Homo sapiens: one gene and its partner. The protein of the gene in region 1 purifies or fractionates together with the protein of each later gene. This does not show direct contact. Each region holds a gene or a part of one and is shown on either strand. Other genes may lie near its edges.

Evidence for each region.
Region 2: the proteins of GPR3 (region 1) and DMWD purify together in Homo sapiens (affinity purification with mass spectrometry; 3 studies listed by BioGRID and IntAct, with this or other methods). This does not show direct contact.

The regions. Positions count from the first base shown.
Region 1 is NC_000001.11:27,387,494-27,396,821, forward strand, and holds GPR3 (G-protein coupled receptor 3), read left to right. Parts: upstream 1-5,128; 5' UTR 5,129-5,244; intron 5,245-6,300; 5' UTR 6,301-6,305; coding exon 6,306-7,298; 3' UTR 7,299-8,321; downstream 8,322-9,328. UniProt on the Homo sapiens protein: Constitutively active G-protein coupled receptor that maintains high 3'-5'-cyclic adenosine monophosphate (cAMP) levels that a plays a role in serveral processes including meiotic arrest in oocytes or neuronal development via activation of numerous intracellular signaling pathways.
Region 2 is NC_000019.10:45,788,151-45,797,716, reverse strand, and holds the start of DMWD (dystrophia myotonica WD repeat-containing protein), read left to right. Parts: upstream 1-4,871; 5' UTR 4,872-4,960; coding exon 4,961-5,401; intron 5,402-6,629; coding exon 6,630-6,812; intron 6,813-9,566. Other genes in the region: RSPH6A (radial spoke head protein 6 homolog A), read left to right, coding at 1,611-1,848. UniProt on the Homo sapiens protein: Regulator of the deubiquitinating USP12/DMWD/WDR48 complex. Functions as a cofactor that promotes USP12 enzymatic activity.

The DNA of each region.
Region 1 (9,328 bases):
TGCCTCAGCCTCCTGAGTAGCTGGGATTACAGGTGCCTGCCACTATGCCTGGCTAATTTTTTGCATTTGTGGTAGAGACAGGATTTCATCACGTTGGCCAGGCTGGTCTCGAACGCCTGACCTCAGGTGATCCACCCACCTCGGCCTCCCAAAGTGCAGGAATTATGGGCGTGAGCCACCATGCCCAGCCAGATGTTTATTAAGTAACCTTACTTACTATGCCATGTTGTGACCATCTGTGTACATGTTTGTCCCACTGGTCTGTGAGGCCCCCAAGAGCTCCCTACTTGAATAGATTTTAAGGATCTATTTGTAGATTGTCCATCCCTCCAGATTAAAACTGAAGCTTGGCCTGGCACAGTGGCTCATGCCTGTAATCCCAGCACTTTGGGAGGCCGAGGTGGGCAGGTCACCTAAGGCCAGGAGTTCGAGACCAGCCTGGCCAACATGGTGAAACCCTGTCTTTACTAAAAAATACAAAAATTAGCCAGGCGTGGTGGCATGCATCTGTAGTCCCAGCTACTCGGGAGGCTGAGGCAGGAGAATCGCTTGAACCCGGGAGGCGGAGGTTGCAGTGAGCTGAGATTGCACCACTGCACTCCAGCCTGGGCAACAGAGCAAGACTATGTCTCAAAATAACTAACTAAATAAATTAATTAATAAAACTGAAGCTCATTGAAGATGGCAGGGATTTTTGTTCACTGCTGTATTCTCTGTACCCGGGAAATAGAAGATGCTCAATAAATGTGTCTATTGACTGTTGAAAAGGCAGGAATTTGGCCAGATCATCTTTCTGTCCCTAGCACCCACTGAACAAACCCTAAGCCCAGGGGAACTGCCAGTAAATAATGGCTGAATGAATGGGTCTATGCTAAGAATATGGGCACTGATGATGCCTAGACCCTTGGGTCTTAGACAAGGGACTCAGGTGTGGGGATTATCTATGACTGACACACACACACACACACAAGCACACACGCACGAACACCCCCTCCCCGCCAATTCCTCCCTCCCCAAGGGATTTCTCCAACTGGTGAAGACAGAAGAGGCAAGGATAAAAGTCTCACCTGGAAGTGAGTCCTCACAGCCATCTGGTGGCCACCTGGAGAACTGCAGGTATTGTCAGCCCTAGTCAAACTTTAGCCTCAGCCCCTTCTGGGAAGAAGGTGACATCTAGGCCAGAATGGAAGGCACACTGGACTTGGTGACAGATGGACCTGGCTTCAGATCCCAGCTCTGCCATTTACTATGTGATTTGGGGCAAGTCCCTTGGCTTTCCTGGGCTTCACCCAAGAAATGGAGACATGGTCCCTCACTTTTGCAGGTTGTTGTAAGCCTTGGGCTCTGGCTGGGCACCTGGTAGGTGGGAAGGGTTGGAGGAGGTGTCAAGGAGGTAGGGACAGAGGGCATGAGGAGAATAGGAGAGAAGGAACTATCTCTTCCTTTAGAGAGCAAGTATGCGGGGAATGGAGACCTGATTGGTATGAGCACTTTTGGTGCGTGAGGGAGAGCACATGAGGTTCACGTGAAAACCCATAGCCCCCCTTTAGTCTCTTGGCTCTCCTGGGTTTCTCGGGGTTAGAAATGTCACTGCATGCCGGGTGCGGTGGTTCATACCTGTAATCCCAGCACTTTGGGAGGCTGAGCAGGGTGGATCACCTGAGGTCAGGAGTTCAAGACCATCCTGACCAATATGGTAAAACCCTGTCTCTACTAAAAATACAAAAAAAAAAAAAAAAAAAAAAGCTGGGCATGGTGGCGGGCACCTGTAATCCCAGCTACTTGGGAGGCTGAGGCAGGAGAATCGCTTGAACCCAGGAGGCAGAGGTTTCAGTGAGCCGAGATTGCACCACTGCACTCCAGCCTGGGCAACAAGAATAAAACTGTCTCGGAAAAAAAAAAAAAAGGAAAGAAAAGAAATGTCACTGCACTCTCTTTTCCTCTCTGGCTGCCTTAGGATCAACTTCCCTTGCAAACAACAGGATAACTATCAGGATCAGGAAGTTCATGACCAATACTTCAGTGGAAATGATGGTCTTCCGTGTCCTTCACCCTGGGAAGACAACAATACCTAAGACAGAAAACTAGTCAAAAAGTAGAAGACCACTCTGGATTTCATCTTTGTATTTAGAACCCATTTTGGGCTGGGCACAGTGGCTCATGCCTGTAATCCCAGCACTTTGGGAGGCCAAGGTGGGCAGATCACTTGAACCTACGAGTTCAAGACCAGCCTGGGCAATGTGGCGAAACCCTGTCTCTACAAAAATTACACGCCTTAGCCAGGCGTGGTGACACGTGCTTGTAATCCCAGTTACTGTGGAGGCTGAGATGGGAGGATTGCTTGAGTCCAAGAGGTTGAGGCTACAGTGAGCATTGATTGCACCACTACACTCCAGCCTGGGTGACAGACTGAGATCCTGTCTCAAAAAACAAACAAACGAAAAAAAAAGACAGAACCCATTTTGGTGGTGTTAAGACAACTGGCTTGGTTATGATTTATGATTCCTTGGATTATGCAAAGAAAAATTAATCCAAACACAGACTTGCAAGACATAAAAGAAAAAGACCTCAAGAAAACAGCTAAAGGAACTCAAGAACAGAATGACGACAGCCAGGGAGTCACAAGAGTGTGGTGCTGGTGCTGGCAAACAGGAATGGCTTTATCTGCAGCAATGGTGAAGATTTTTCACCAGAGGATCAATAAGCTACGAAAACTTAAAAAATATATAATTGCCATTCAGAGTAGTAGAAGATAGTCCCTGATACCCCCCTTTGATGCCAACCTCCCAGCAGCCTTCACCCATCGCAGAGACCAGAACTCTGTAGGGACCCAGCTCTGATGGGGGAGTAAATGGATCCCTGACCCTGAGTCTTGGGGCCCTGATGCCCTTGGATCCTCTCTCTGACACCCCCACCTTCCTGGGCACCAGGCATATTACTATTCTCTCTGTTTTCCTTTTTTCCTCTGGTTGTTCCCTTTTAGGTCAATCATCCAGTCCATGATTATTTCTTCAATACCCATTACATATCAGGCACTGTTCTCTAGCAGAAATGGGACATAGTCAGTATCCTCTTGGAGCTTAGATTCTAGTGGGGCTGACATGTAGTAAAACAAACAAACATGAATTCATTTATAATTTCAAGAGTGCTTCATCCTCCAAAAATGAATAAATCAAGAGAAGGGGAGGGAGAGTGATGGGGAGGCCAGTGGCGATCTGAGAGTTCAGAGCAGCCTGTTTCAGAAGTAATTCGGGAGCAGAGACCTGGATGAAGAGAAGGGTTGTTGTCAGAGGGGTCAGGTGCAAGAGCCCAGGAGGAGGAGCCCCTGAAGCCACTCCTCACTCTCTGCTCCCGCCCCTGGGTGACATTATTTACCCCTAAAACATCAGTTGCCACCTGCATGCCTACACCTCCCAGGTGTCCCTCATTATCCAGCTGTAACATTGATGGCCAATGGCAAGTAGAACCCACTCAACAACCCCATGAGGCCGGTACTAATATTATCCCTGTGTTTTAGATGAGGAAATAGGCACAGAGAGCTGAAGAAACTCTCCAAAGTCACCCAGCTAGGAAATGGAGAAACTGAGATTGGACACTTCCACCCCCTAAGCCCCCTAAACTCACCACATCCAACCTGAAATGAATCCTCTTCTCCAGCTCCGACCCCCTCCTCCTCCCATGTTCCCTGCCACTTGACCTTCTGCTGCCTCACACTCAAACCCAAAACCTGCCTGGTGGAGGCTGACCATGGGGGCTGCAGTGATGGTGCTGTGATGGGGGTGTCCAGTGGGGCCTGGGATCCTCAGGCCTCTTAACCTCATCTTCCCCTCCCACAGGCCTGCATGATTCCAGGGAGCATCAAGGCAAGAGACACAGGGAGAAGGAGCAGCCAGTCCCCCTGCCGCAGGACTGGCCACATCTGTCACATCTGGAGAAGTCTGCCCAGAGTGGTTCCCCTGGACTAAGGGCAGATGGCGTTGGGGAAGAGGGAGCTCTTTCTCCTTGCTCCACCCATCAGGATGCCTAAAATAGGAGGCTGAGAGGGGCCTGCCCTGAGGACTGAGCTGCCAGGCTTTCTGCTTCCAAGTTCTTCCCGGCTCCCCATCTCCTCCTGCTTCAGGGAAGTGCACCCCTCACCCCCTCCACGCTGGCTTTCTAGATACTGGAATAAATAATTCAGGTTTTGAAATCTTGCCAGGCCCACCCCTCCGGTGCTGTGAGGGCGCTATTGGGCTGACATGAGTGACGTCACCCAGCTCTTATCCCAGCCCCGGCATCACGGGACTTGCCCTGGCAGCAACTTACCTGCCTGGTCACTGTCAGTCCAGACCCTCTACCCTGTGCCCCTCACCCTGGAGCCCACTCACCACAGCCACCTGCTATCTTCGTTCCAGGGCCCCACAGTCCTCATGGCTTAGCATTGTCGCTTCAGTACCCCAGCCATTCTGACAGGGTAATGGTGACCTGAAGTCACCTGGACACTCCATGTTCCCAGGCCGCTGCCTCTGCCATCCCGGGGTCCCTGAACTCCCCCCTGCTGCATAGTCACCCTGACACTGCCATGGTTGCCCTGAGGGCTTCCCCTCTACCGTTAGCGTCCCACGGCCATCACCCCCCACCCCAAGATTCTGTCACCATGCTAATGTCGTCACTGCCACCCACCTCCCCGCTCCCTCGTGCTCCCTGTCATCGTCACCTCAGGGCCCCATCATCTTGGAAACCCTGTCATTCTCACCAGGGAAGCCCAACCAGCCCCATCACAAGCTCTTCCTTCGTCACCTGGATCTCGTCAGCCTCTCTGCCACCCAAGGGTCCCATCACCCCACAGCCTAGCCGGGCCCCCTTTCCACTCTTCCACCACGTTCCCTGCAGCCTCTCTGAGACTTCAAGGCTCTCGCACCGGCGCCTCTGAAACCCCCGGCCCGCAGAGGGCGCCGCGTCAAGGACAGCGCGGGCGGACTCGGGAGGGGGCGGGGCCGCAGCCACGGTCGCTTTTTATGAATGGGGGAGCGGGCGGTGCGAGGCCTTATTACTATGCCGCGCAACGCGCGCTGCGCCCCAGCGCGCCGCGCCCATTGGCTGATCGGACCGCTGACGTCACCGAACCGGTGGCCGGGGGCGGGGCGGGGTGACTCACGCCGCTTCTCCCGCGGCCGCGGGGGCTTCTCGGGGTCCACGCACGCCCTGCGCCGCCAGGACCCGAGCGGAGCCTCCCCGCGGCCCGGCCGCGCCTGGTCCTGAGCGGTGAGTAGCGGGCCCCGCCGCGGGCACCAGGGGTCCTGAAGGGCACGCAGGATGCTGGGGCACTGGGCCGGCGGAAGGCTCCTAGTGGCCGGCCGGGGTTCGAGTTCGAGGTGGGAATTCTGGGTTTAGGCGATTCTGGGTTAGCAGGCTTGGGCCCAAGTGCTCGAGTGCTGGGGTTGAGTTGGATGACCCGGCGAAGGGTAAGCATTCCTGCAGGGACCCGAGGCCCTGGAGGGACTGATGGTCATCTGAGGTTAAGCCGGCAGGAGGCGTCTGGGGCAGGGACCCAGGGGTCCGAACAGCAGGAGGTGTCCAATTTAGGAATCCAGGTATCCAGGCAGGAGGCAGAGTCAGGCCCAAAATCCAGGTGTCCGGGCAGAAGGAGGCATCTGACTCAGGGATCCAGTCTTCCAGCAGGGGGGTCTGCCCAGAGACCTAGAGATTCAGGCGGAAAGAAGGGTCCAGCCAGGAACAGAAGTCTGGGAGGGTGGGGGGTGGGGGGCTGAGTTCCCAGGTGTTACCGCGGGAGTGCGGGGTGATGGCTGGCGGGAGCTTCACGCGCATTCCCTGGGGGCGGAGTCTAAGGCTGGCAGTACTGAAAATCGTGAGGGGTCTGGGAGCCTCAGGCACGAGCTAGCATCATCATCTCTGATGGGAGGGAGCGGAGCTGCTCAGTCTCCCTGATGGGGTAGATGTTTCCCTACCCCAATCTTGAGCCTTCGGGGGCATCCCCTGGATCCTATGGCCCTCTTCCACTTATAGTACCCCTTCTTCTGTCTCTCCTCTGGTCACACACGTGGGAAAAAGAGACCTGCAGGACCTAGGACAGGGATCCCCAGGAAGAGACCCCTGTTTAGAGGCCTGGGGGCATTGGAGGGGACAGCGGTATCCTGGGAAGAGCCCCAGGGCATGAATGTGGGGATAAGGCATTGGGACCCTATCAGGTATCCTGAGGAGAGACTCCCACCACGTATCCTGAGAAGCACCTCACCCCCTCCAGACCCCAACTCCCATCACCCAGCTTGGTCAGCTTCTCACAAGGCCTTTCTCCTGCAGGTACCATGATGTGGGGTGCAGGCAGCCCTCTGGCCTGGCTCTCAGCTGGCTCAGGCAACGTGAATGTAAGCAGCGTGGGCCCAGCAGAGGGGCCCACAGGTCCAGCCGCACCACTGCCCTCGCCTAAGGCCTGGGATGTGGTGCTCTGCATCTCAGGCACCCTGGTGTCCTGCGAGAATGCGCTAGTGGTGGCCATCATCGTGGGCACTCCTGCCTTCCGTGCCCCCATGTTCCTGCTGGTGGGCAGCCTGGCCGTGGCAGACCTGCTGGCAGGCCTGGGCCTGGTCCTGCACTTTGCTGCTGTCTTCTGCATCGGCTCAGCGGAGATGAGCCTGGTGCTGGTTGGCGTGCTGGCAATGGCCTTTACCGCCAGCATCGGCAGTCTACTGGCCATCACTGTCGACCGCTACCTTTCTCTGTACAATGCCCTCACCTACTATTCAGAGACAACAGTGACACGGACCTATGTGATGCTGGCCTTAGTGTGGGGAGGTGCCCTGGGCCTGGGGCTGCTGCCTGTGCTGGCCTGGAACTGCCTGGATGGCCTGACCACATGTGGCGTGGTTTATCCACTCTCCAAGAACCATCTGGTAGTTCTGGCCATTGCCTTCTTCATGGTGTTTGGCATCATGCTGCAGCTCTACGCCCAAATCTGCCGCATCGTCTGCCGCCATGCCCAGCAGATTGCCCTTCAGCGGCACCTGCTGCCTGCCTCCCACTATGTGGCCACCCGCAAGGGCATTGCCACACTGGCCGTGGTGCTTGGAGCCTTTGCCGCCTGCTGGTTGCCCTTCACTGTCTACTGCCTGCTGGGTGATGCCCACTCTCCACCTCTCTACACCTATCTTACCTTGCTCCCTGCCACCTACAACTCCATGATCAACCCTATCATCTACGCCTTCCGCAACCAGGATGTGCAGAAAGTGCTGTGGGCTGTCTGCTGCTGCTGTTCCTCTTCCAAGATCCCCTTCCGATCCCGCTCCCCCAGTGATGTCTAGCTGAGTCTTCATGACCCTTCAACCCTGATTACTACAGAATTCCAGAATGTTAGGCTCTCCAGGGCTTCTTTCCAAACCCCCAGCTCCACACCCCCCAGACCCAGCTGGTTCTGGAGTTCTAGGACATTGGGTGTTTCAAGGTTCTGTTCAGATCCCTATGGGGGCCCAGCTGGCTCCACGGTTCCAGAATGTTCAGGTGGTCAGTGTTCTACTCAGAAATGTCTCACAGCCCAGCTGGGTTGCAATTCCAGAATGCTGGGAGTTTTACAGTGCCATTCCAAGTCCCAGATGTCCCTCTTCCCCCAAACTTGACCTTGACCATGTCACTTTATGTTTGAATTTCTGAGCTAAAGAGTCAGAGAGATTAGTCACATAGTTGCCTAAATAGGAGAGAGAAAGATTATATATGCACATATACAAAGACAGTGTCTATTTATGATTGATTTATTTATTTATAAATTTACTTATGGGTGGTAAGGGGCAAAAAAGAGGCCCACACCTTGATATCCAGGCCATACCAGGGTATCCCTTGTCCCTTCACCCCCATTTCTGACCTCAGTTCCTGGAGGGGGGAAAGGGTGAAAGAGAAACCACGTATTTTGTTATTATTTTGGATTATTTTTTATCGAAGAGATCATAGAAACCAGAGCCTTCTCCCCAGGCCTGCCCTCCTCGGGTTTGGAAGGGGAACACACCAGCCTCTGGTTTTTTATTTTTTTAAGAAGCCATCACCTGAGCAACCAAAAATTCCTCTGCGCTGGGGTCCGACTGCCCTCTGGTGGCCATTTGGGGAAAACTGCAGCCCGGCCAGGCAGCTGGGACCAGAATGCAACCCCAGCTCCACTCCAGCCTGGCGTCCAGGGCCACAGCCATGGCCTGGGGGCCAAGCCTCACCCTGCGGTGCCCTAAAGGAGGGGGGGCACGAGCCAACACCCCACCCCTCTGCCAACCGGGGTATGGCCCCCAGTGCATTCCCTGTTCCCGTCTCCAACCCAACTCAATAAAAAATGATTTTGTCATAAATATGTTTCCCTATGTGTGTGTGGAGGGTATGGAGTGGGGCCTGATGGGGGATGGCCTGGAATGAGAGGGTCAAGCCAGGCCTGGGGGGCCTGTTGGGGGATCTGGGGAGCTGGACAGAGGGTGGAGGGTGGCTGGCAGGTGACTCCTTCTCAGATGTCAGTGCCCCTCTGCTCAGACCTGGGCACTGACTGGCAAGGACCTTACCTCCTCCTGGTGACAGGAACCTGGGTGCTTGGCTCTTCCTGGGTCAAGGATGCTCACATCCTGCCCACACCGGCCACTGTGGGGCTTAGACATGATGAATATGCTCAAAGCATGTCAGTTTCCTTAATAATAATAGGTCCTACTTTTTTTTTTTTTTTTTTTTTTTTTGAGACAGAGTCTCGCTCTGTCCCCCAGGCTGGAGTGCAGTGGCGTGATCTCGGCTCACTGCAAGCTCCACCTCCCGGGTTCACGCCATTCTCCTGCCTCAGCCTCCCGAGTAGCTGGGACTACAGGCGCCCACCATCACGCCCGGCTAATTTTTTTTGTATTTTTAGTAGAGACGGGGTTTCACTGTGTAAGCCAGGATGGTCTCGATCTCCTGACCTCGTGATCCACCCGTCTCAGCCTCCCAAAGTGCTGGGATTACAGGCGTGAGCCAACGCGTCTGGCCAATAATAGGTCCTTCTAATCATGGGTGCCTACTGTGTGTCTGGCACACATGCTACCTCGCTTATGCCTAATAAGCATCCCATGGCACCGGTAGTGTCTTCTCCATTTTACAAACGAGGGAGCTGAGGCTGAGTGAGGGACAGCAGCTGGCCCAAGGCCATACAGCTAAAAAATGGTAGAGCCAGGAACATCTGTTTCCAGAATCTGTGCTGTGTAGTGAGTGATTTCCTTCCTTCCCAAGCCTGGAGCTTAGGACATTCTGGACCCTGATTTTTTTTTTTTTTTTTTTTTGAGACAGAGTCTTGCTCTGTTGCCCAGACTGGAGTGCAATAGCGTGGTCTCGGCTCACTGCA
Region 2 (9,566 bases), on another chromosome or scaffold:
TTTGTATTTTTTGTAGAGATGTGGTTTCACCAGGGTGGTCTCGAGCCCCTGACCTCAGTTGATCCTCCTACCTCGGCCTCCTAAAGTGCTGGGATTACAGGCCTGAACCACCGCACCTGGCAGGGAGTTTTGTCTAGTTTGTTTACTGCTGTGTCCCCAGCACCTAGACAATTTTATTTATGTCCCACATGATATGTTGGACATAAATAAAGTGTCACAATATAAATAAATTGATATCCAACATAAAATTATGTCTCACATAAATAAAATATGAGCCACATATATAATTTAATTTTTTTTGTTATTTTTAGTTACTTATTTCTTTTTTTTTTTTTTGAGACAGAGTCTCACTCTGTCACCCAGGCTGGAGTGCAGTGGCGCGATCTTGGCTCACTGCAAGCTCCGCCTCCCAGGGTTCACGCCATTCTCCTGCCTCAGCCTCCCCAGCAGCTGGGACTACAGGCGCCTGCCACCACGCCCCACTGATTTTGTTTTTGTATTTTTAGTAGAGACGGGGTTTCACCGTGTTAGCTAGGCTGGTCTCGATCTCCTGACCTTGTGATCCGCCCGCCTCGGCCTCCCAAAGTGCTGGGATTGCAGGCGTGAGCCACTGCGTCCAGCCTAGTTACTTATTTCTTGATTTATTTTGAGATACGTTCTCACTCTGTCACTCAGGCTGGAGTGCAGTGGCATGATCACAACTTACTGCAGCCTCAAACTCCTGGGCTCCGGCAATCCTCCCCCCTCAGCCTCCCCAGTAGCTGGAACCACAGGTACGTGCTACTGCAACTGGCTAATTTTTAAACTTTGGGAGGTGGAGGCGGCAGATCACTTGATGTCAGGAGTTCAAGACCAGCCTGGCCAACATGATGAAACCCCCTCTCTACTAAAAATACAAAAATTAGGCCAGGCATGGTGGCTCATGCCTGTGATCCCAGCACTTTGGGAGGCTGAGGCAGGCAGATCACTTGAGGTCAGGAGTTTGAGACCAGCCTGGCTAACATGGTGAAACCCCGTCTCTACTAAAAATATAAAAATTAGCTGGGCGAGGTGGTGTGTGCCTGTAGTCCCAGCTACTTGGGAAGCTGAGGTGGGAGAATCACTTGAACCCAGGAGGCAGATTTTGCAGTGAACCCAGGAGGTGGAGTTTGCATCCAGCCTGGGTAATACAGAGGAACCCAGTGAGCACATTTCACCCTGCCATCCACAACTTTGCAGTCATGCTATGCACATGCTGGGTCCTACCCTTAAAGAAAGTCAAGGCTGGCCAGGTGCGGTGGCTCACGTCTGTAATCCCAGCACTTTGGGAGGCCGAGGCGGGCAGATCATGAGGTCAGGAGTTCCAGACCACACTGGCCAACATGGTGAAACCCCATCTCTACCAAAAATACAAAAATTAGCTGGGCGTAGTGACGCGTGCCTGTAGTCCCAGCTACATGGGAGGCTGAGGCAGGAGAATCGCTTGAACCTGGGAGGCAGAGGTTGCAGTAAGTCGAGATCACACCACTGCACTAGGCAACAGAGTAAGACTCCATCTCAAAAAAAAAAAAAAAAAAGTCAAGTCTGGGGCCTTTGAGGGAGAATTTCACAGTGTCTCACTGCTTCTCCAGAAAGTTTGAGAACATCTACATCGGCTGGGGTCACAAGTACAGCCCCGAGAGCTTCAACCCGGCCCTGCCAGCCCCCATTCAACAAGAGTACCCCAGTGGCCCAGAGATCATGGAGATGAGTGACCCCACAGTGGAAGAGGAGCAGGCTCTGAAAGCAGCCCAGGAACAAGCCCTGGGAGCCACAGAGGAGGAGGAGGAGGGCGAGGAGGAGGAGGAGGGCGAGGAGACAGATGACTGAGGCCCACCCTCTAGCCACTTTCCCCAAGCAGGTAGATAGCAAATTTCCCCTTAGAGGTAGTTAGCATGGATTATATTTTCACTATGTGCTTCCTGTCCCCAGAGGGCAGGGATAGAAAAGGAAGGCAACTGCTTCAAATAAAATTCCTCCACGGCATTATGGATGAGCCATTCATTCATTTGTTCACCACCTCTGTTGACATGGACTCCAAGCCAGGGCTGTTGGGCCCTGCAGAGAGCACAGACATTGCCTGGCAGAGTCTCTCCCACCTGTTTGGTTTTTGTTGTTGTTGTTTGAGACAGGGTCTCATTCTGTCACCCAGGTTAGAGTACAGTGGCACAATCTCAGCTCCCTGCAGCCTTGACCTCCTGGGCTCAAGCAGTCCTCCCATCTCAGCCTCCGGAGTAGCTGAGACCGCAGGTGCACATCACCACATACACTAATTTTTGTATTTTTTGTAGAGACAGGGTCCTGAGTAACTAGGACTGCAGGCACAGCCCACCATGCCCAGCTAAATTTTTTCAATTTTTCAGAGTCTCACTATGAGATGGGGTTTATGTTGCCCAAGCTGGTCTTGAACTCCTGGCATCAAGCGATCTGCCTGTCTTGGCCTCCCAAAGTGTTAGGATACAGCTGTGAGCCACCGCGACCAGCCCCACCTGTTTTATTTATTCATTTACCTAGCCATCAAACCATTATTGAAATACCTCCTGTCAGCCCACCCCTGTGCTGGGGACACAGACAGCTGCAGTCCTGCCTTCCTGGACCTCACAACACTATAGGGAGAGAGACTCATTTCCAGACAGTGACAGCCCAAATGGGGAAGCCCAGAGGACTGACAGAGCTCCCGAGCCAACTCTTAAAGGGTCAAGAAAAGAATGGGGAAAGGCATTCCAAGAATAGGGAACAGAATGTGCAAAGACCCAAGGACAAGAGAGAGTGTGATATGTTGGGGTAGTTTTTCAAGCCTCATTTTAGGTGGTGGATAGTGTGAGGAGTTAGTGGTGAGATATGAGATTGAAAAGAGGTTGGCAGGGGCCAGATCACTTGGGGCTTAACTTTCCCCTGAGAGCACTAGGGAGCTACAGATGGGTTTTGAGCAGGGGAGGGCCCTGATCATATTCATGCTTTAGAAAGACCTCTCTAGGCCTAGTGCAGTGGGTCACACATGTAATCCCAGCACTTAGGGAGGCCAAGGTTGGCGGATCACCTGAGGTCAGGAGTTTGAGACCAGCATGCCCAACATGGTGAAACCCCGTCTCTACTAAAACTACAAAAAAGTAGCTGGGTGTGGTGGCAGGTGCCTGTAATCCCAGCCACTCAGGAGGCTAAGGCAGGAGAATCACTTGAACCCAGGAGGCAGAGGTTGCAGTGAGCCAAAATCGTCCCATTGCACTCCAGCCCACGTGACAAGAGCGAGACTCTGTCTCAAAAAAAAAAAAAAAAAAAAAAAAAGCCGGGTGCAGTGGCTCATGCCTGTACTCCCAGCACTTTGGGAGGCCGAGGTGGGTGGATCACCTGAGGTCAGGAGTTCGAGACCAGACTGGCCAACATGGTGAAACCCCGTCTCTGAGCCGAGATGGAGCCATTGCACTCCAGCCTGGGTGACAGGGTGAGACTGTCTCAAAAAAAACAAAAACAAAAACAAAATAAAACCTCTCTACATGCCAAGTGAAAGGTGGAAGTGGGGGTGAGACAGAAATCTGGGAGACCAAGAGACACGGTTGATGTGGGGGTGGGGGAAGGGCTTGGGTAGAGGAGAAGCTTGGATCAGGGAGAACAAGGAACTGAGAAAGAGGAATTCCACGTGGTCGAATGCAAAAGACTTGGAGGCTGTAAGCGGGGGCAGAGTGAAGATAAATGGTACACATCTAGGAAGACACCCAGGTCTGTGGCCTGGTTGACTGAGTGGACGGCAGAGCTAGCCCTAAGGTGGGGATGCAAGAGAGGTGGAGGATTTGGTGTAAGACGTCAATTTCATTGTAGGATTCTTTTTTCTTTCTTTTTTTTTTTTTTTTAGAGAGACTGAGTCTGACTCTGTCCCCCAGGCTTTAGTGCAGTGATGTGAATTCATAGCAGTCTTGATCTCCTGGGCTCAAACGATCCTCCCACCTCAGCCTCCCAAAGTGCTGGGATTCTCGGATTCCAGGCATGAGCCACCATGCCCGAACCATTGTAGGATTTTTTTTTTTAAGTGTGAGATGCCCTTGGGACACTCTAGGGAGAAATCGTAGAGGCCATTGACTACATGAGACTAGAAAGATCTATGATGGGGCTGGGTGGCTTCAGCAGACATGGGGAGCACTGGCTATGAGTAGGAGCTGTTGGGATCAGGGGGAGACTTTGGGTTACGAGTGGATCACTGGGACACTGGGGCACCGTGGGGATCAATACAATTTGGGAATCAGAGGTAGGTTTTGGAGGACAAGTGAGGTTGTTGAAAATAAGAAAATCATGGAAATATACATTGGAGGTTGGTGGAAAATATGAAGGATGTTTGGAGTTAGCATTAATCAATAGTGGGTCAGAGGAAGTCCTCTGAGTTGTGTGGGGACACAGGGATTTGGTGGGTCACCAAGGGTGGGGAAGAATGGTAGCAGATGCTGTGGTCATTCAGGGATTTGAATATGTCAGTGGGAAACACTGGAGGTCAGGGGAGTGTATATTGGGCGTCTAAGGAGAGACCAGGGTCACTTGGGGTTGGCTGTGACTTCATGGGAAGGCTGGACTATGGATGAGGGCTTCTTTGTCGTGGGGGAAAAAAAAAAAAAAATCCCTCCGTTGCTAGGCAAACGTTCCCAGGGCGCGGTTGCTAAGGACTTGAGCTTTCTAACTGGCCACGCCTCTTTCCATTGCGGGCTCCGCCCCCGCAGCCAACCACAAGTCGGTCACAGGCTCAAAGGCCGCGCCCACCTTCTCGCCCCGCCCACAGTCCCAGCACCGTTACCCGAGCGACCGCGGGGATTCGTCCCGCCTCCGGATCTGGGTGCCAATCGAAGAGGCGTTGCCCGGGCGACGACCCCACCTTTTCCGGCGCGGGCCAGCGGCTTCCGGGAGGGGGCCCGGCTGCGGGCGGCAGTCCGGCAGTGGCGGGGCCCGGGGGGCGCCCAAGATGGCGGCGGGCGGCGCGGAGGGCGGCTCGGGCCCCGGCGCCGCCATGGGGGACTGCGCGGAGATTAAGTCGCAATTCCGCACGCGCGAGGGTTTCTACAAGCTACTCCCGGGCGACGGCGCCGCTCGCAGGTCGGGTCCGGCTTCCGCCCAGACTCCGGTGCCGCCTCAGCCACCGCAGCCCCCGCCCGGCCCTGCCTCCGCCTCCGGTCCCGGCGCTGCAGGCCCCGCGTCGTCCCCGCCGCCCGCAGGCCCCGGACCCGGGCCCGCCCTGCCCGCCGTGCGCCTCAGCCTCGTGCGCCTCGGGGAGCCGGACAGCGCCGGGGCCGGGGAGCCGCCCGCCACGCCCGCGGGGCTGGGCTCGGGGGGAGACCGCGTCTGCTTCAACTTGGGCCGTGAGCTCTATTTCTACCCAGGCTGCTGTCGTCGTGGGAGCCAACGGGTGAGCGGCCTGCATCGTGGGGCCCTGGGTGCTGAAAGGATGGAGGTTCCAGAGAACTGATAGGAGGGTCCCCGAATTGATATGGGGCCCTGAGATAGGCATTCTAAATGTGATGGACGTTGTAGGGCGACAGCATTGGAGGGAGTACAGGATTCTGAAATGTGATGAGAGGCCCGCGGGGTGCTGGGCAGGCATCTTGGAGGTGATGGGGGAAATCCCCTTTACCCCCGTTATGCGTAGGAGTTCTGGGATGGTGACTATTGGACATGATGGGGTATCTGAGATGAGGTGGGATCCCCCGGGTTCTGGGGTGGCAGGCATTCTGCAGGTAATGGGGAATCATGAGGTGATGCAAGCCCAGAGGTGATGGAGAACCCAGTATTGCAGCCTGGAGGTGTGGGAGAGGGGTCTTGAGATTGAGCCCAGGAATGAGGAGAAGTCTAGAAGTGATGGGGGCCTTGAAGGTGATAGGGGATCCAGAAGCTGAATGGGATTCTAGAGAAAATTGGGGTCTGGAAGTCATGAGGGTCCTGGAGGAGATGAGCGTCCGGAAGCTGATGGGAGCTCTCAAGGGAATGAGAGGCCCTGGCAGGGGAATCTGCAGGTGTGATTCAGGACATCTCTAAAGCGATGTGGTGAGAACCCTGGCCGTTTATGGTGATCCCAGAAATGATGGGGATCCTTCGGAGCCCCTAGGTAATAAATGGGCCTAAAATGTGGGAGACCGTGAGGTTTGACGGGTCCCAGAACTGTGGCGGTTTAGGGACTACAAAGTGAAGAGAATGCTAGGATGTTAGGCTTTAGAGTCCTGGAAATTTGGGTGACCTCAAGGTTTGGGGGTCTTGGAATAGTGTGGTACTAGGTCCCAAGGGAGTTGCTGAGGTTATAGGATGGAGTGGTGAGGCTAAAAGGAATCGGAGCTTAGGAACTGTGTGGACCCAGAACCCTGATTATGTGGACAAGGGTGTCTCTGAATTAGAGGTGACCCAACTTTGGGGAGGCACTGTGGTCAAGGGGGATCCTTACCATCTTTTTTGCTACTCTTGTCTGTGATTTGGGTCCCCTTCCCGTCTGTGGTTGCCCCGTCCTTCGCAATCCACCTACTCACCTCCCCACTTCCCTCTGGGTTCTAACCCTGCTTCCTCTTAGTGGTTTCCCCCAACCTCAACATCCTCTTCCTTCTCCTCAGTGGCATACACCATTAACTCCTTTTCTCCCACCCCTCAAGTCCATTGACCTCAACAAGCCAATTGACAAGCGGATCTACAAGGGCACCCAGCCCACCTGCCACGATTTCAACCAGTTCACTGCTGCCACCGAGACCATCTCGCTGCTGGTGGGCTTCTCAGCGGGTCAAGTGCAGTACCTGGATCTCATCAAAAAGGACACCAGCAAGCTGTTCAATGAGGAGGTGATTGCAGCCCCCAGAGCCCCCAACTTCTCTGCCTTCTCACCTACCCACTATATGCCATTAGGATGCAGCTGCCTGCGGAACAGTGTAGGCCTGAGAGGGGCAGGACCAGGGAGAGATGGAGAATGGGGTGACAGCAGCTAATGACAGCTGCCTTTACTGTACCCAGGCCCTGTGCTGTGTTACCCTTGTGCTGAATACTTTACTCCTTGGGTTTTCTTTCTTTCTTTCTTTCTTTTATTTATTTATTTTGAGATGGAGTCTCACCCTGTCACCCAGGCTGGAGTGCAGTGGCGCGATCTCTGCTCACTGCAAGATCCACCTCCCGGGTTCATGCCATTCTCCTGCCTCAGCCTCCTGAGTAGCTGGGACTTCAGGCACCTGCTGCCACGCCCGCCTAATTTATTGTAGTTTTAGTGGAGATGGGGTTTCACCGTGTTAGTCAGGATGGTCTCGATCTCCTGACCTCGTGATCTGCCCACCTCGGCCTCCCAAAGTGGTGGGATTACAGGTGTGAGCCACCATGCCCGGTTCTTTTTTTTTTTTTTAATTGTAATTGTAATTTTTATTGTTTTTAATTTTTTTTTTCTTTTTAAGGCGGAGTCTCACTCTGTCGCCCAGGCTGGAGTGCAGTGGTACAATCTCGGGTCACTGCAACCTCCGCCTCCCAGGTTCAAGCAATTCTCCTGCCTCAGCCTCCTGAGTAGCTGGGACTACAGGTGCGCACTATCATACCTGGCTAATTTTTTTTTTTGAGATGGAGTCTCGCTCTGTCGCCCAGGCTGGAGTGCAGTGGCGCGATCTCGGCTCACTGCAACCTCTGCCTCCCGGGTTCACGCCATTCTTCTGTCTCAGCCTCCCCAGCAGCTGGGACTACAGGCGCCCAGCACCACGCCCAGCTAATTTTTTTGTATTTTTAGTAGAGACGGGATTTCACCGTGTTAGTCAGGATAGTCTCGATCTCCTGACCTCGTGATCTGCCCGCCTCGGCCTCCCAAAGTGCTGGAATTAAAGGCGTGAGCCACCACACCCGGCCAATTTTTGTATTTTTGGTAGAGATGGGGTTTCACCATGTTGGCCAGGCTGGTCTCAAACACCTGACCTTGTGATCCGCCCACCTCGGCCTCCCGAAGTGCTGGGATTACAGGCATGAGCCACCGCGCCCGGCCATTCTTTGAGTTTTCATCAACCAGTGGATACAGAAGTGTGCTGCCCATTTTGCAGATTAGAGAATTGAGGCTAGTAAATAAGTCGGGACTTAGTTGATGCCCTTGCTCTTTGAGTTCTGGGCTCTGGAGGCTTTGGATTCAAAGCCCTGCTGCACCATTTACTCATCATGTGACTTTGGGAAGGTGACCATTCTCTGAGCCTCACTTCTCCTCCTCTGCAAAATGGGATTCCAGTTCCTACCTTGCAGGACCGCTGTTGTAGAATCATACATGGAGATTGCTCAGTCCTGGGCCAACTTGGCCTACGAGGAGATACCAGTAAACGACCTTATCCGCGGGCAGGGACTGCTCTTGGCTTCTGTCTCATTCTCTCTGGTCCAGAGGAGGTGTTCCATAAATATTCTCAGAATGAGTGAATGGCTGAAGGGAGTGAACGGAACAGTCAGTGGATTAAAAATTCATTAGCTCATCCATTCACAAATAGTTTTTGAGCATCCGTTCTGTGCCAGGCACCGTTCCCAGCACTAGGGATATCACATCTCAGGGCCCTGGACAGGAGGCCCTGCCCTTTTGGAGCTTTCAGTCTAGCTGGGGAGACAGACAGTTAATCAAGTTAAGTCTTCGTGTGTCAGCAGGTGATTAAGGCCTGTTTAGAAGAAGCAGTGGGGAAGGGGCTGAGGGAAGCTTGGAGAGTTTAGTAGGGTGGTCAGGAAAGCCCTCACTAAGAGGTGATACTGAAATAAAGACCTGAAGGAGGCAGGTGAGAAGAGTTGCCTGGGGAAGGGCATTTTTTTTTTTTTTTTTCCTGAGATAGGGTCTCACTCTGTCGTCCATGCTGGAGTGCAGTGGTACGATCTTCGTTCACTGCAACCTCCGCCTCCCAGGCTCAAGCAGTCCTCCCATATCAGCCTCCTGAGTAGCTGGGACTACATGCATGCACCACCACAACTGGCTAACTTTTGTATTTTTTGTAGAGGCGGGGTCTCTTTGTGTTGCCCAAGCTGGTCTCGAACTCCTGGGCTCAAGCTATTCTCCTGCTTTGGCCTCCCAAAGCGCTGGGATTATAGGCGTGAGCCATCACACCCAGCCAAGAAGGACATTCTGAGTATCGGGGCCAGCTAGGACAAATGCAGGATTGCACAGAAGCCGTGTGGCCAGTGCAGTTACTGAGGGAGAGAAGATGGTAGATGAGTTCCAAGAAATAACGGAGGGGCTGGCTCATGGAGAGTCTGGAAGGTCACGGAGAGATTTTGCCTTACTCTTAGTTGGAAGCCTGTGGAGGAGCCTTTCTCATTGGGGCTCACCTGAGCCCTGGAAGGCAGAAGTGACTAGAGTGATTATTTGTTCAGTTCTCCCAGGGATGGGAGGCACCTCATCCTGGGAGAGCAGCTCCTTAGTTGCATACACTGGCTGCCTGAGAGCATTAGGGCCTCAGGCTCTGGAACCCTGCTTGAGAGAGGCTGCGAAGTGTTCAGAGCAGGACAGTGCCAGGTGCTGGCTGATACTTCACAGAGCATCGCTGTGGCGGCTGCAGAGGACAGACAGGCCCAGGCATTGGAGCCTGAGGCCAGTCACACAGCATTGC